Regions from separate parts of the Homo sapiens genome. Here all the other regions are linked to region 1. Evidence: fine-mapped expression QTL. A gene starts in region 1. Each other region holds a variant in brackets. All regions are shown on one strand. Distances are from middle to middle. Region 1 holds the start of SLC7A7 (solute carrier family 7 member 7). Region 2 overlaps OXA1L (OXA1L mitochondrial inner membrane insertase). Region 3 overlaps OXA1L-DT (OXA1L divergent transcript).

Region 1 (4,221 bases):
AAACAAAAAAGATTAGCTGGGCGTGGTGGTGTGCACCTGTAATCCCAGCTACTCGGGAGGCTGAGGCAGGAGAATTGCTTGAACCCAGTAGGTGGAGGTTGCAGTGAGCCGAGATTGCACCACTGCACTCCAGCCTGGGCGACAGAGTAAGTGTCTGTCTCAAAATAAATAAAATAAAATAAAATAAAATAAAATAAAAATACCGAAATAAAAACACAAAAATTAGCCAGGTGTAATCCTAGTTACTCAGGAGGCTGATGCATGAGAATTGCTTGAACCAGGAGGTGGTGGAGGTTGCAGTGAGTCAAGATCGTGCCACTGCACTCCAGCCTGGGGGACAGAGTGAGACTCTGTCTCAAAAAAAGAAAATAAATAAAAAAAAAAAAAAATAAAAGGAAGGCCTAGAGACTAAGGCAGGCCAGGGGGATGGGGAGATGGAGAGATAGTATACTTGTGTGATTAAGAGTATATGAGCTCTGGAGGTTCCATGAGATAATGTGCTTAAGTCCTTAGCAGTGTGTCTGGCCCAGTAAGTGCTCAATAAGTGATAGCAATTATTATTACAGGAGCATTTTGGAGAAAAGGAGAGTCTCCTCCAGAAGGATTTCAGATCATTGTGAGCCTGTCTTGGGAGAAGCATGATCTCTGGGAACGCTCACACCAGAATCCTCCTCCTAGATTAAATTAAAAGTTTAAAGAGCTAGAATGGGAGGATGTATGGTAGAGATGTCTCCCAGAGATATTTAGATCTCTATTCTCTGGTTGTAGAATAACCAAAGAGGGTTAGAACAGATAGGAGAAGAAACAGACAGTTGGATTTCAGAATGGATAGGGTCTATTTCTGTTGGTAAAAGAGACTCAGAATACCAGATTTAAAGTAAATAATAAAGATAGCATAAACTATGTGATTTCCAAAAAGTGCTCAGCTTCCTCTGCCTGTTCTGGGCCTGTCTGTCCAACAGAATTCAGTGAAATCTGATTTCCTCATATTCTTTTTTAATTTTTTTTTTTTGAGATGGAGTCTTGCTGTGTTGCCCAGGCTGGAGTGCAGTGGCCTAATGTGGGTTCACTGCAAGCTCCGCCTCCCGGGTTCATGCCATTCTCCTCATTCTCCTGCCTCAGCCTCCCGAATAGCTGGGACTACAGGTGCCCGCCACCACGCCCGGCTAATTTTTATTTTTTTGTGTTTTTAGTAGAGACGGGGTTTCACCGTGTTAGCCAGGATGGTCTTGATCTCCTGACCTTGTGATCCGCCTGCCTCAGCCTCCCAAAGTGCTGGGATTACAGGCGTGAGCCACCGCGTCTGGCCTGATTTCCTCATATTTTTTAGGAAAGTGGAGTCAACTTATATTTGAGGAAGGCGTTTATAGGAATTTATGCTTATCCCAGAGATCTTGGTATGTTTTGTCAAGAATGAAAAGGCACGTGGGTCTGGTGGGGATGCAGTCAGATATTTGATCTCTTGACTGTGTTTCTTTTGAAGTAGTCTGAGGCTCAGACTTTGGGGCAGTGGCCCAGGCTTGGAGGCAACCCCCCAGTCTCTCTTTGCATGGGGAAGTGTGCAGAGTTCTCTTAGAACACCCAGTCACATGGTGTAGAGACTGCTCTTACACTTCCTGTAATCTCAGCATGGGAACAAGCCTTTGTGTCACACTGTGCAACCTTCCTCCCTTTCTTAAATGCTTGGGGTGAGAGAGAAGAGAGGCTAGGGTGGGGCATGGAGGACACAGAGAGAGAGAGTGCTGTGTATTCCTTCCCCGCTACTGTCCTGTCCTCAGCTAACTTGCTCTGGGACAGCTTCCCCAGGGCTACAGATACTGCACTCAGCTGACTGTCCTTTCTTCTGGGCCCCTGGTCCCAGAGCAGAGCTGACAAAGGAGATTCCTGAGAGAGCACCTTCTTATCACAGAAAGTGCTGAGCCAAGAGCTCCTAGCTGCCCCTTTTGCAGATGTGAAGGGCCAGTGAACCTTGGACCCAGATGGTTGCTTAATACTCCTTTCCCCCTCCCTCACTCCTTCCTTTGCGGGCTGCCTCACCTCCTCCACCCTTCTTGCTTAAATCCATAGGCATTTGTCTGGCCTTCCCTTTTACTGCTGGCTGGGAAGGAGGAGCATCAGACCACAGATCCTGGAAGGCACTTCTCTCCCTGACTGCTGCTCACACTGCCGTGAGAACCTGCTTATATCCAGGACCAAGGAGTGAGTGTGCGTTCCACCCTCTTCTCATCTCCACTTACCTTGCTAACCCTCCTCTTTGCTGCTGTGCAGTGTCTAATCGCTTCTTCTCCCGAGTGCCTCTCACCCTAACATCTCTCCATTGCTTGACTAGCCTCTCCCATTTTCCTCTCAGCTGTCTCCTGTTCGGTGTTTTCCAGCATGTGCTGCCTGGCTGCAGCTGTCTCCCTGCCTTGGCTCGGGGTGATATCTCTCCAGCAGCAACTCTGGGGTAGGGAGTGGCCATCAGCTGCCTCCAATCATCCCTAGGTTTTATGGTACATTGGATCGCCCTTCTCTCATTCATACTTTTTTGGGTGATTCAACGATGCTGATGTGAGGGATCGATAGCAGGAGGCTTAGAATACCAGAGAATGGGAAAGGAAAAGCAAGGAAAAGATAATAGCCTGTCTTCTTTCAGGGTGAAGTGGGTCTACTTGGGCTTTGCCAGGGCTGAAGACTCCAGCTAAGGGTTAAGGGATGCTCTTTGGGCAGGAGGATGGTTGTGGGTTTCCAGCAGGTTTCTGAAGCCTTTAGTTTTGGCAGACGTAGAGTCCTTGGGGAAAAGAGCAGTGTCATGAGACGCTCCCACAGATTAGCTGCTGGTAGGGTCAGTTCCTAATGTTGTACCTCAGCACAGGTGATCCCTGAAGCTGAAATTGGAGGGAAGACGGGTTTTGGATAAGGCTGAAAACTCGGGGTCAAGCCATTATAGTTATTTTCTGGGAGCCGCCACACTGCCCCCATGCCTGTCTTGTATTATAGCAGGCTCAGAGAGAACCAACATTTAGTGTTTTGTTTTTGATTTTGTTTTTTTTTTGAGACAGAGTTTTGCTCTTGTTGCCCAGGCTGGAGTGCAATGGCCCAGTCTTAGCTTACCGCAACCTCTGCCTCCCGGGCTCAAGTGATTCTCCTGCCTCAGCCTCCCAAGCAGCTGGGATTACAGGCATGTGCCACCACGCATGGCTAATTTTTGTATTTTTAGTAGAGACTGGGTTTCTAAATGTTGGTCAGGCTGGTCTCGAACTCCCGACTTTAGGTGATCTGCCCGCCTTGGCCTCCCAAAGTGCTGGGTTTACAGATGTGAGCCACAGCGCCCGGCCCAAGATTTAGTTCTCTATTTGGTGAGTCGGGTGGGCAGCAATGTCCTAATGATGAGAGACAGATCCTTTCTCTCTGGCGAATGAGTGCCTTCTCTTAAAAATTCAAGTTGGAGGCTGGGCAAGGTGGCTCACGCCTGTAATCCCAGCACTTTGGGAGGCCGAGGCGGGCGGATAACCTGAGGTCGGGAGTTTGAGACCATCCTGACCAACATGGAGAAACCCCATCTCTACTAAAAATACAAAATTAGCTGGGTGTGGTGGTGCATGCCTATAATCCCAGCTACTTGGGAGGCTGAGGCAGGAGAATCACTTGAACCCGGGAGGCGGAGGTTGCAGTGAGCTGAGATCGCGCCATTGCACTCCAGCCTGGGCAACAAGAGCAAAACTCCATCTCAAAAAAAAAAAAAAAAAATTAGCCACGCGTGGTGGCAGGTGCCTGTAATCCCAGCTACTTGGGAGGCTGAGGCAAGAGAAGCGCTTGAACCCGGGAGGCTGAGGTTGCAGTGAGCCGAGCCGAGATTGCACCACTGCACTCCAGCCTGGGCTACAGAGCGAGACTCTGTCAATAAATAAATAAATACATAGATAGATAGACAAATATTCAAGTTGGGGTTGTTTTGATGAGTGAGCTGGAGAAAAGGTTATTTGGAGGTCTCCGCATTGGTTGGTGAGCTGCCCGTATTACCCTGTGTTGGAGGCGGGTAGAGGTTCTATGTAATTGCCAACCACCTAATCTATAGCATCATCTTTCTTCCTTAAAGGGCAATGCCAGGAAGCTGGTGAAGGGTTTCCTCTCCTCCACCATGGTTGACAGCACTGAGTATGAAGTGGCCTCCCAGCCTGAGGTGGAAACCTCCCCTTTGGGTGATGGGGCCAGCCCAGGGCCGGAGCAGGTGAAGCTGAA
Region 2 (4,036 bases), 42 kb after region 1:
TGTCATTAATCTTAATACTGAGCTCCAGTCCATATTATCCAAATACTTTTGAAGGAAGGGATGGCAGAGAGGGAGGGCCATGTGGCAGGTGAACCAGGCTGCACCGTGTCCACCAATTTTCTCAGCTTCTCCTATCTTACCTAACATAGGCTTTTCTTTGTGGGCTCAAGAGAAGGCCATCTCCCTGATGCCATCTGCATGATCCATGTTGAGCGGTTCACACCAGTGCCTTCTCTGCTCTTCAATGTAAGTGAACTCAAGGATGAGACTGAAAGCCAGATTGCGGGGGAAACTTTAGTAACAGCAGAAGCGACTGTTCTAGCTTCCTGAAAGCTCTGAAAGATTCCAATAGAAAAACTATTGGTGGATCAGAATGTTCACCACGGGCAAGGCACTATGCTAACCGCTACAGGGGAAATCCAAATGCTCTAAGGAATGGTACACCTCTGCTCTAAGATAAGGCAAAAAGTACATGGAATACACTGTAATGATTGATTGCCATGACAGATAGTGAGTGATACGGTGTTTAAGAGAAGAAACGATCACTTCCATGGGAGTAGAGGGTGAAGAATTACATCTAGAAGTGTGTGTGTGTGTCTTAAAATCCACCAAAGTGTTCTCAGAAAAAAAAAGTGCATCTTGATGGCTAGGGTTGCAAATGGTAGAGATGGGCTTTAGGTAGGAGAAATAGCATCAGAAAATCCTGTGATAAAGCAGTATGGGTTTTAATACAGGTTGAGTATCCCTAATCTGAATATCCAAAATCTGAAATGCTCTAAAAATCTGAAACTTTTTGAGTGCTGACTTGACACTCAAAGGAAATGCTCATTGGAGCATTTTGGATTTTCAGAACAGGGATACTCAACATGTAGGAGGAGATAAGAGCGGGTTATTGTAGGTTGGAGCCATTATGGAAAGGGTCCTATGCAAGACTTTTGAGGGATTGTTTCGAGCTTGCTTTATACAGGGTTAACTTGAAGAATGGGTTGAAAAGCCAGTTGAGACTACTGACTTATAAGAGAGGGGATAAGGTACTGAAACTAGGGTGTTAAAGGGATTAAAACCAGAAGAGGACCAGGAGACTTTGAGGATTGACAGGGGATGGATTTCTGGGGTATAAAGGGAGTGAAAAGCCTTTGGATTAACAAAGGCCCTGAGAAGAGCTGACTTAGGCTCACGCTTACAGGGTATCATGGCATTGATCTACTTGTGCGTGGAAGACATCTTCCAGCTCATTAACTACTACAGCTTCAGCTACTGGTTCTTTGTGGGGCTTTCTATTGTGGGTCAGCTTTATCTGCGCTGGAAGGAGCCTGATCGACCTCGTCCCCTCAAGGTAAGGCAACTCCATCCTACCTCTGCTCCACCTGAAACAGCTGGAGTTGTTGCTACAAGGGACTATGACAAAGCACTTTATTTAGAAACCTTTGCCTGGGACTTGGTCGTTAGTAATGTGTTGAAATTAAAGGTATGGAAAGAAGGCTCAGTGCGCTAATCCTTATGGGAGGTGGGGTTATTTTAGCTGTTAAGAATCCTGAGTTGTCCACTCCAGTTATGTTTCCTGTGCCCTTAGCTCAGCGTTTTCTTCCCGATTGTCTTCTGCCTCTGCACCATCTTCCTGGTGGCTGTTCCACTTTACAGTGATACTATCAACTCCCTCATCGGCATTGCCATTGCCCTCTCAGGCCTGCCCTTTTACTTCCTCATCATCAGAGTGCCAGAACATAAGCGACCGCTTTACCTCCGAAGGATCGTGGGTAAGCCGTGCATCCTTAAGTCCGCTCAGCTATTGCAGAGCTTGGTTTTTGCCTTTTTCTGTAAATCCAGCCTCCAAAGACATCTTTGCCTTAGCCCCTTCTTATGAACCCTTCGGCTTAGTGGAATCACTCCCCTCACACTGAGTTCCATTCAGTGACACTTGAACTCAGCCCAGCTGACCTCTTCTCAATTCCAACTCAAAGTTCTCTTTGTAGGGTCTGCCACAAGGTACCTCCAGGTCCTGTGTATGTCAGTTGCTGCAGAAATGGATTTGGAAGATGGAGGAGAGATGCCCAAGCAACGGGATCCCAAATCTAACTAAACACCATCTGGAATCCTGATGTGGAAAGCAGGGGTTTCTGGTCTACTGGCTAGAGCTAAGGAAGTTGAAAAGGAAAGCTCACTTCTTTGGAGGCACCTGTCCAGAAGCCTGGCCTAGGCAGCTTCAACCTTTG[A/G]ACTTACTTTTTGAAATGAAAAGTAATTTATTTGTTTTGCTACATACTGTTCCAGACTTTTAAAGGGGACAATGAAGGTGACTGTGGGGAGGAGCATGTCAGGTTTGGGCTTGGTTGTTTTAGAAGCACCTGGGTGTGCCTACCTACTCCTCTTTTCTTTTAAAAGGGCCCACAATGCTCCAATTTCCTGTCTCCTTTAGAGAGACATGAAACTATCACAGGTGCTGGATGACAATAAAAGTTTATGTTCCTAAAGTCTGAGTGGCTTCATTTTATATAGTATCTATCTCTAGGACAGCTCCCATTAGCCTAGAAACACAAAGACTAAAATCAATCTTATGCTTGAAAGTATATCCATCTTTTCTCTCTCAAGCTAGCTGCTGAAGGCTGATAAACCAGGCTCTACACAAAGGCAGACAACAGAACACTTAAACTGCTCTAGTCAAATGTTGGATTGTTACATAAAAATGACATGAACTTCCTTTTTGAGACAGGATCTTGCTCTGTAGCCAAGGCTGGAGTATAGCAGCATGATCTTGGATCACTGCAGCCTCAACCTCCTGGGCTTAAGCTATCCTCCCACCTCAGCCTCCCAGGTAGCTGGGACTATGGACAAGCACCACCATGCTCAGCTAACTTTTTAGCAGAGACAAGGTCTCGCCATGTTGCCCAGGCTGGTCTCAAATTCCTGGACTCAAGTGATCTACCCACCTCAGCCTCCCAAAGTGCTGAGATTATAGGTGTGAGCCACTTTGCCCAGCCTGGAACTTTCATTCTTAATTATCACTAAGAATTTGCACACATCTACTTCTTGAAATTTTTAAAGTAATCTTGGGATCAAGAAGTGCGGTTACTATATTTAGATACAATCTCAACATTCAACTTATCAGCCACACCTCTAGACTGCAATCCAAATGTGCATAGAACAACACATGCATGGGTTGGAAGTTTAAACTGTTTTTTTTTTTTTTTTTTTTTTTTTTTTTTTGAGAAGGAGTCTCACTCTCTTGCCCAGGCTGGAGTGCAGTGGCGCAATCTCGGCTCACTGCAAGCTCTGCCTCCTGGGTTCACGCCATTCTCCTGCCTCAGCCTCCCAAGTAGCTGGGAATACAGGCACCCGCCGCCATGCCCGGCTAATTTTTTTTTTTTTTTTTTTAGTAGAGACGGGGTTTCACCATGTTGGCCAGGATGGTCTCGATCTGCTGACTTCGTGATCCGCCCGCCTTGGCCTCCCAAAAGTGCTGGGATTACTGGCGTGAGCCACTGCGCCTGGGTGGAAGTTTAAACCCTTAATGCCAGGTTAAAACATTATATTTTCCAAGGCCATGGGCCAGCAAAAGCAATCATGACTCACTCTATTCTTCAGTTTTCTTTTTTTTTTGAGACAGTCTCCCTCTATTGCCCAGGCTGGAGTGCGGTGGTGCGATCTTGGCTCACTGCAACCTCCGCCTCTCGGATTCAAGCAATTCTCCTGCCTCAGCCTCCCGAGTAGCTGGGACTACAGGTGTGCACCACCACGTGTGGCTATTTTTGTAAAACAGCAGAGATGGCGTTTCCCCATGTTGGCCAGGCTGGTCTCAAACTCCTGATCTCAGGTGATCCACCCACCTCGGCCTCCCAAAATGCTGGGTATTCTTCAGTTTTCTGAAGTGCACACTGATTTCCCTGTTCAATAAGTATCAGGAAGCAGCATGTAGTACAGAGGTTTACTAACTCTGTGAATGGGAAGATCACTTGGCTACCCAGTGCTCTCTTATAAACATAAGTACAAGAGTGTTTCATGAAATCCGTTTTTAAAATGAACATCTCTGTGTGCCACAGTT
Region 3 (4,221 bases), 76 kb after region 1:
TCAGGAGATCAAGACTATCCTGGCTAACACGGTGAAACCCCGTCTCTGCTAAAATACAAAAAATTAGCCGGGCGTGGTGGCGGGCACCTGTAGTCCCAGCTACTTGGGAGGCTGAGGCAGGAGAATGGCGTGAACCCGGGAGGCGGAGCTTGCAGTGAGCCAAGATCGCACCACTGCACTCTAGCCTGGGCGACAGAGCGAGACTCCATCTCAAAAAAAAAAAAAAGAATTAATGTTCAATGTATTGATTTGTTTGATATAGTCATTACTAGCAGTCTCTAAAACATAGTTATCTGAATTTCTAACAGTGGGTACAATTGCCCAGGCCTTGTATATCTGGCTGTGTAAGACAGTGGCTAACAGTGAGGATTGTCTCAGACAGTCAAGGTTTGCATCCTGATGACTAAGGATATACTTACCAGATATGTGTCATTAGGCACAACATTTTCCTCACCTGTGAAATCTGTAAGTATCACATCAGGCTGTTTTGAGGTTTAAGTGAGATAACACAAAGTTTTTTTGTTTATGTAGGTCATAGTTTTATTATTACTAATAATATTGGCATTATTTTTCTGAAACAAATATACATCAGATAAAATGAGTAACTTTGTCAATGTCACTAGGACCAATATTTTCATCATAAGTGATTATAGTCTTAGGGAAATTGCCTAAAAGTGAAATGGCTGGGTCAGGAGGTCTGCACATTTTAAGGCTTTTTTTTCCCATTCCTAGACTGCGCTCCTGAGGATCACACTAGCTGTTGGAGAGCATCAGTTTTCTGAATTCTCTACAACATAGTTATTACTATTTTGCCAGTTTTATGTGTTGAGATGAACGTTGTTCTTATTTTAAAAAAACAGGAACTGAGGCTGAAGAAGGCTATGAATGATAGAGTGGACAGCAGTGCATGAGGACAGCTGGGCCAACTCTTCAATATCACACCTTCATTACTCATTCTCACTAGAAGGCCATATTCCTCCCAAGTAAAATGGGTGTCAGTTTACCTAGATTATATGTTAATTTGTTCCTTTTTATGGCTGAGGAGCATTCCATAGTATGGGTCTTCCACCATACGCTTATCTATTCACTAGTTGATGGACATGTGGGCTGTTTCTAGTTTTTGGCTATCATTAATAAAGCTGCATACAAGTCTTTGAGTAGATCTCTATTTTCATTTTCTTTGGGTACACATCTAAAAAGGGATTTGATGGTTTGTATGGTAAGTATATGTTAAACTTTATAAGAGAAGGTTAGAGTATTTTCTAAAGTGATTATATCATTTTGCACTCCCACTAGCAATGTATGAGAGTTCCAGTCACACATAGACTCTGAGATGGAGCAAAGACCCCTCTTGGGGGCCTGCCAGGGATGACCTTCCCCACAAAGCATGGAAATAAAGAAAAATCTTGAATTCCTTCAAGGGAAATTCCAGGCACCTAGCTAGCCTTGAGAAGTAAATGAACAACTTGATAAGCAAGAAGGGAATGGTAGCTTAAAACAATAGCCAAGGAAGTTGAAGTCACAGGATGTTTGGTTTCCTTTAGAAACTGAAGATAACATCTTAACATATATCCCTGAGTTGTTTTTCAGAAACCCAGACCTCCATCAAATGGCTCCTCTGGCACGCAGACCTCAGATAAGGGGGAAACTGAGGAATGAATGCTGGCCACCATTCTTTGTTATAAATTTCTTCCTGAAGGGTGTGGAGGGAGCATGCCCATAAACCAGAGCTAACATTCTTTTCTGCTGATCCTAAATTTTTTACAAAGTTTTCCCTCCTTAACCAATTGCAAATCAGAAAAATCTTTGAATTCACCTGTGGCCTGTGAGCCCCGATTTGAGATGTCCTGTATGGCCTCCATGTATTGATTTATGATTTTTTTTTTTGAGACAGAGTCTCACTCTGTCACCCAGGCTGGAGTGCAGTGGCACAATCTTGGCTCACTGCAACCTCTGCCTCCCTGGTTCAAGTGATTCTCCTGCCTCAGCCTTCCAAATAGCTGGGGATTACAGGCGCCTGCCACCACACCTGGCTAATTTTTGTACTTTTAGTAGAGATGGGGTTTTTTCACGTTGGCCAGGGTGGTCTTGAACTCCTGACCTCAGGTGATCTACCTGCCTCGGCATTCCAAAGTGCTGGGATTACAAGTGTGAGCCACAGCACCTGGCCCAATTTATGATTTTTGCCCATAACCGCTGTTTCCTTGCCTTAAAAAACCATTAACTGTAAGCCACTGGGGAGGTTGGGTCTTAAGTGTGAGCTGCCTGATTCTCCTTGTTGGGTGCCCTGCAAATAAATGCCCTCCTTTCTCCCACTGCAAAAAACTTGGTGTGGATGTTTGACTTTACTGTGCTGGGTGAGCGAACCCAA[G/A]TTCAGTTTGATAACTCTTTATAGGATCTCTCACATACATAGACTCTACTTTTCCTACCATTAATGGATTTTGAAAGGGCCTTTTTTTTTTTTTTTTTTTTTTTACCGTGAAACTCCAGAAAAAGTTTTGTAATTGCCCAACAGGTTTCTCCTGCCTACTATACAGACAAAACCAATTCACAGAGACCATGGCGTTGCAGTAAAGAAAGAGTTTAATTAAAACTTGGCTAGGCATGTGGAAAACAGAATTATTACTGAAATCAGCCTCCCTGAGAACTCAGAGGCTAGGGTTTTTGTAGATAATTTGGTGAGCAGGGGCTAAGGAGTGGGTGCTGCTGACTGGTTGGGGATAAAATCATAGGAATGCAGAAAACAATCCTTGTGTGCTGAATCTACCTCTGGGTCAGGGCTGCAGGATCAGTTGAGTCATGAGATAGAATACAAAAGTCTGGAAAACATCTTAAAAGACCAATCTTAGGTCCTAGCATCACTATTACATTGTAATTTTTTTTTTTTTCAGATGGAGTTTCACTCTTGTTGCCCAGGCTGGAGTGCAGTCATGCGATCTCAGCTCACTGCAACCTCCACCTCCCGGGTTCAAGCGATTCCCCTGCCTCAGCCTTCCGAGTAGCTGGGATTACAAGCATGTGCCACCACACCCGGCTAATTTTGTATTTTTAGTAGAGATGGGGTTTCTCCATGTTGGTCAGGCTAGTGTGGAACTCCCAACCTCAGGTGATTTGCCTGCCTTGGCCTCCCAAAGTGCTGGGATTACAGGCGTGAGCCACTGCGCCTGGCCTTTTTTTTTCTTTTGAGACAGAGTCTCACTCTGTTGCCAGGCTGGAGTGCAGTGGCAAGATCTCCGCTCACTGCAACCTCTGCCTCTTGGGTTCAAGCGATTCCCCTGCCTCAGCCTCCAGAGTAGCTGGGACGATAGGCACACACCATCACACCCAGCTAATTTTTGTATTTTTAGTAGAGACGGGGTTTCACCATGTTGGCCAGGATGGTCTCGATCTCTTGACCTCATGATCCTCCCACCTCAGCCTCCCAAAGTGTTGGGATTACAGGCGTGAGCCACCACCTATATTGTCCGGCCTATATTGTATGGTTATGGGGCAGTTGGGGAAATCACAAATATTGTGACCTCTGGCAACATGACTCCTGAGCAGTAAGTGGTTATAGAAACTATGTTTACATCCTTAGCAGAATTCAGGCTCCTCCCATAATCCTAATCTCATGGCCTATCATTCATTTTTAGTCCCTGAGCAAGGAAGGAGGGGGTTAGTGTTAGGTAAGGATTATTATCATTCTTGCCTGCAAGTTAAACTATAAATTGAATTCCTCCCATGGTTAGTTTGGCCACACCCAGGCATGAGTGAGGACAGTCAGCCTGTGAGGCTTAGAAGCAAGATGGAGTCAGTCATGGAGGCAGTCATGGAGGCCTGGAGGCATGATTAGAAGCAGTCATGGAGGCAGTCATGACAGCCATTTCTCCCACTGTCATAATCCTTGCAGAGGCAGTTTCAGTTTCAGAATCTGTTTCAGTTACTCATTCAAAGAGTTAGTATAACAGATTCCACTGCTAGAAAACTGCTGGGTGTGGTGTCAGAGCCCTGGCATCAGCATTGGGCAGTGATGGACTTGCAGGTTGGTAAGAAGAATCTACCGACTATAGTATAGGTTTGAAAAAGGAAAGTTTTGGGCCGGGTACGGTGGCTCATGCCTGTAATCCCAGCACTTTGGGAGGCTGAGGTGGGTGGATCACCTGAGGTCAGGAGTTCAAGACTGGCCTGGCCAACATAGTAAATCCCCATCTCTACAAAAATACAAAAATTAGCTGGGCGTGT

Evidence for each region. PIP is the estimated chance that this variant, and not a neighbour inherited with it, causes the effect.
Region 2: its variant is the best candidate, but not a certain one, in a credible set for the expression of SLC7A7 in whole blood (TOPMed, PIP 0.66).
Region 3: its variant is the best candidate, but not a certain one, in a credible set for the expression of SLC7A7 in whole blood (INTERVAL, PIP 0.52).

What each region holds. Positions count from the first base shown.
Region 1 is chr14:22,813,298-22,817,518 of GRCh38, reverse strand. SLC7A7 (solute carrier family 7 member 7) reads left to right here and starts at 2,084. Exons shown (of 10, transcript NM_003982.4): 1 at 2,084-2,199; 2 at 4,079-4,221. The coding sequence starts at 4,121. RefSeq lists enhancers at 1,995-2,094, 2,283-2,789 and silencers at 4,097-4,156, 4,177-4,221.
Region 2 is chr14:22,771,654-22,775,689 of GRCh38, reverse strand. It overlaps OXA1L (OXA1L mitochondrial inner membrane insertase), which reads right to left. Exons shown (of 10, transcript NM_005015.5): 10 at 2,648-4,036. SLC7A7 (solute carrier family 7 member 7) reads left to right here. Exons shown (of 10, transcript NM_003982.4): 7 at 150-246; 8 at 1,187-1,336; 9 at 1,574-1,757; 10 at 1,974-2,468. The coding sequence ends at 2,080. Among named protein-coding and RNA genes, the nearest start is that of OXA1L, 7.0 kb to the right of the region's middle. The variant A/G (reference allele first, on the strand shown) is at 2,214.
Region 3 is chr14:22,736,906-22,741,126 of GRCh38, reverse strand. The region is part of intron 1 of OXA1L-DT (OXA1L divergent transcript); the gene reads left to right. Among named protein-coding and RNA genes, the nearest start is that of OXA1L-DT, 28 kb to the left of the region's middle. RefSeq lists an enhancer at 3,700-3,869. The variant G/A (reference allele first, on the strand shown) is at 2,372.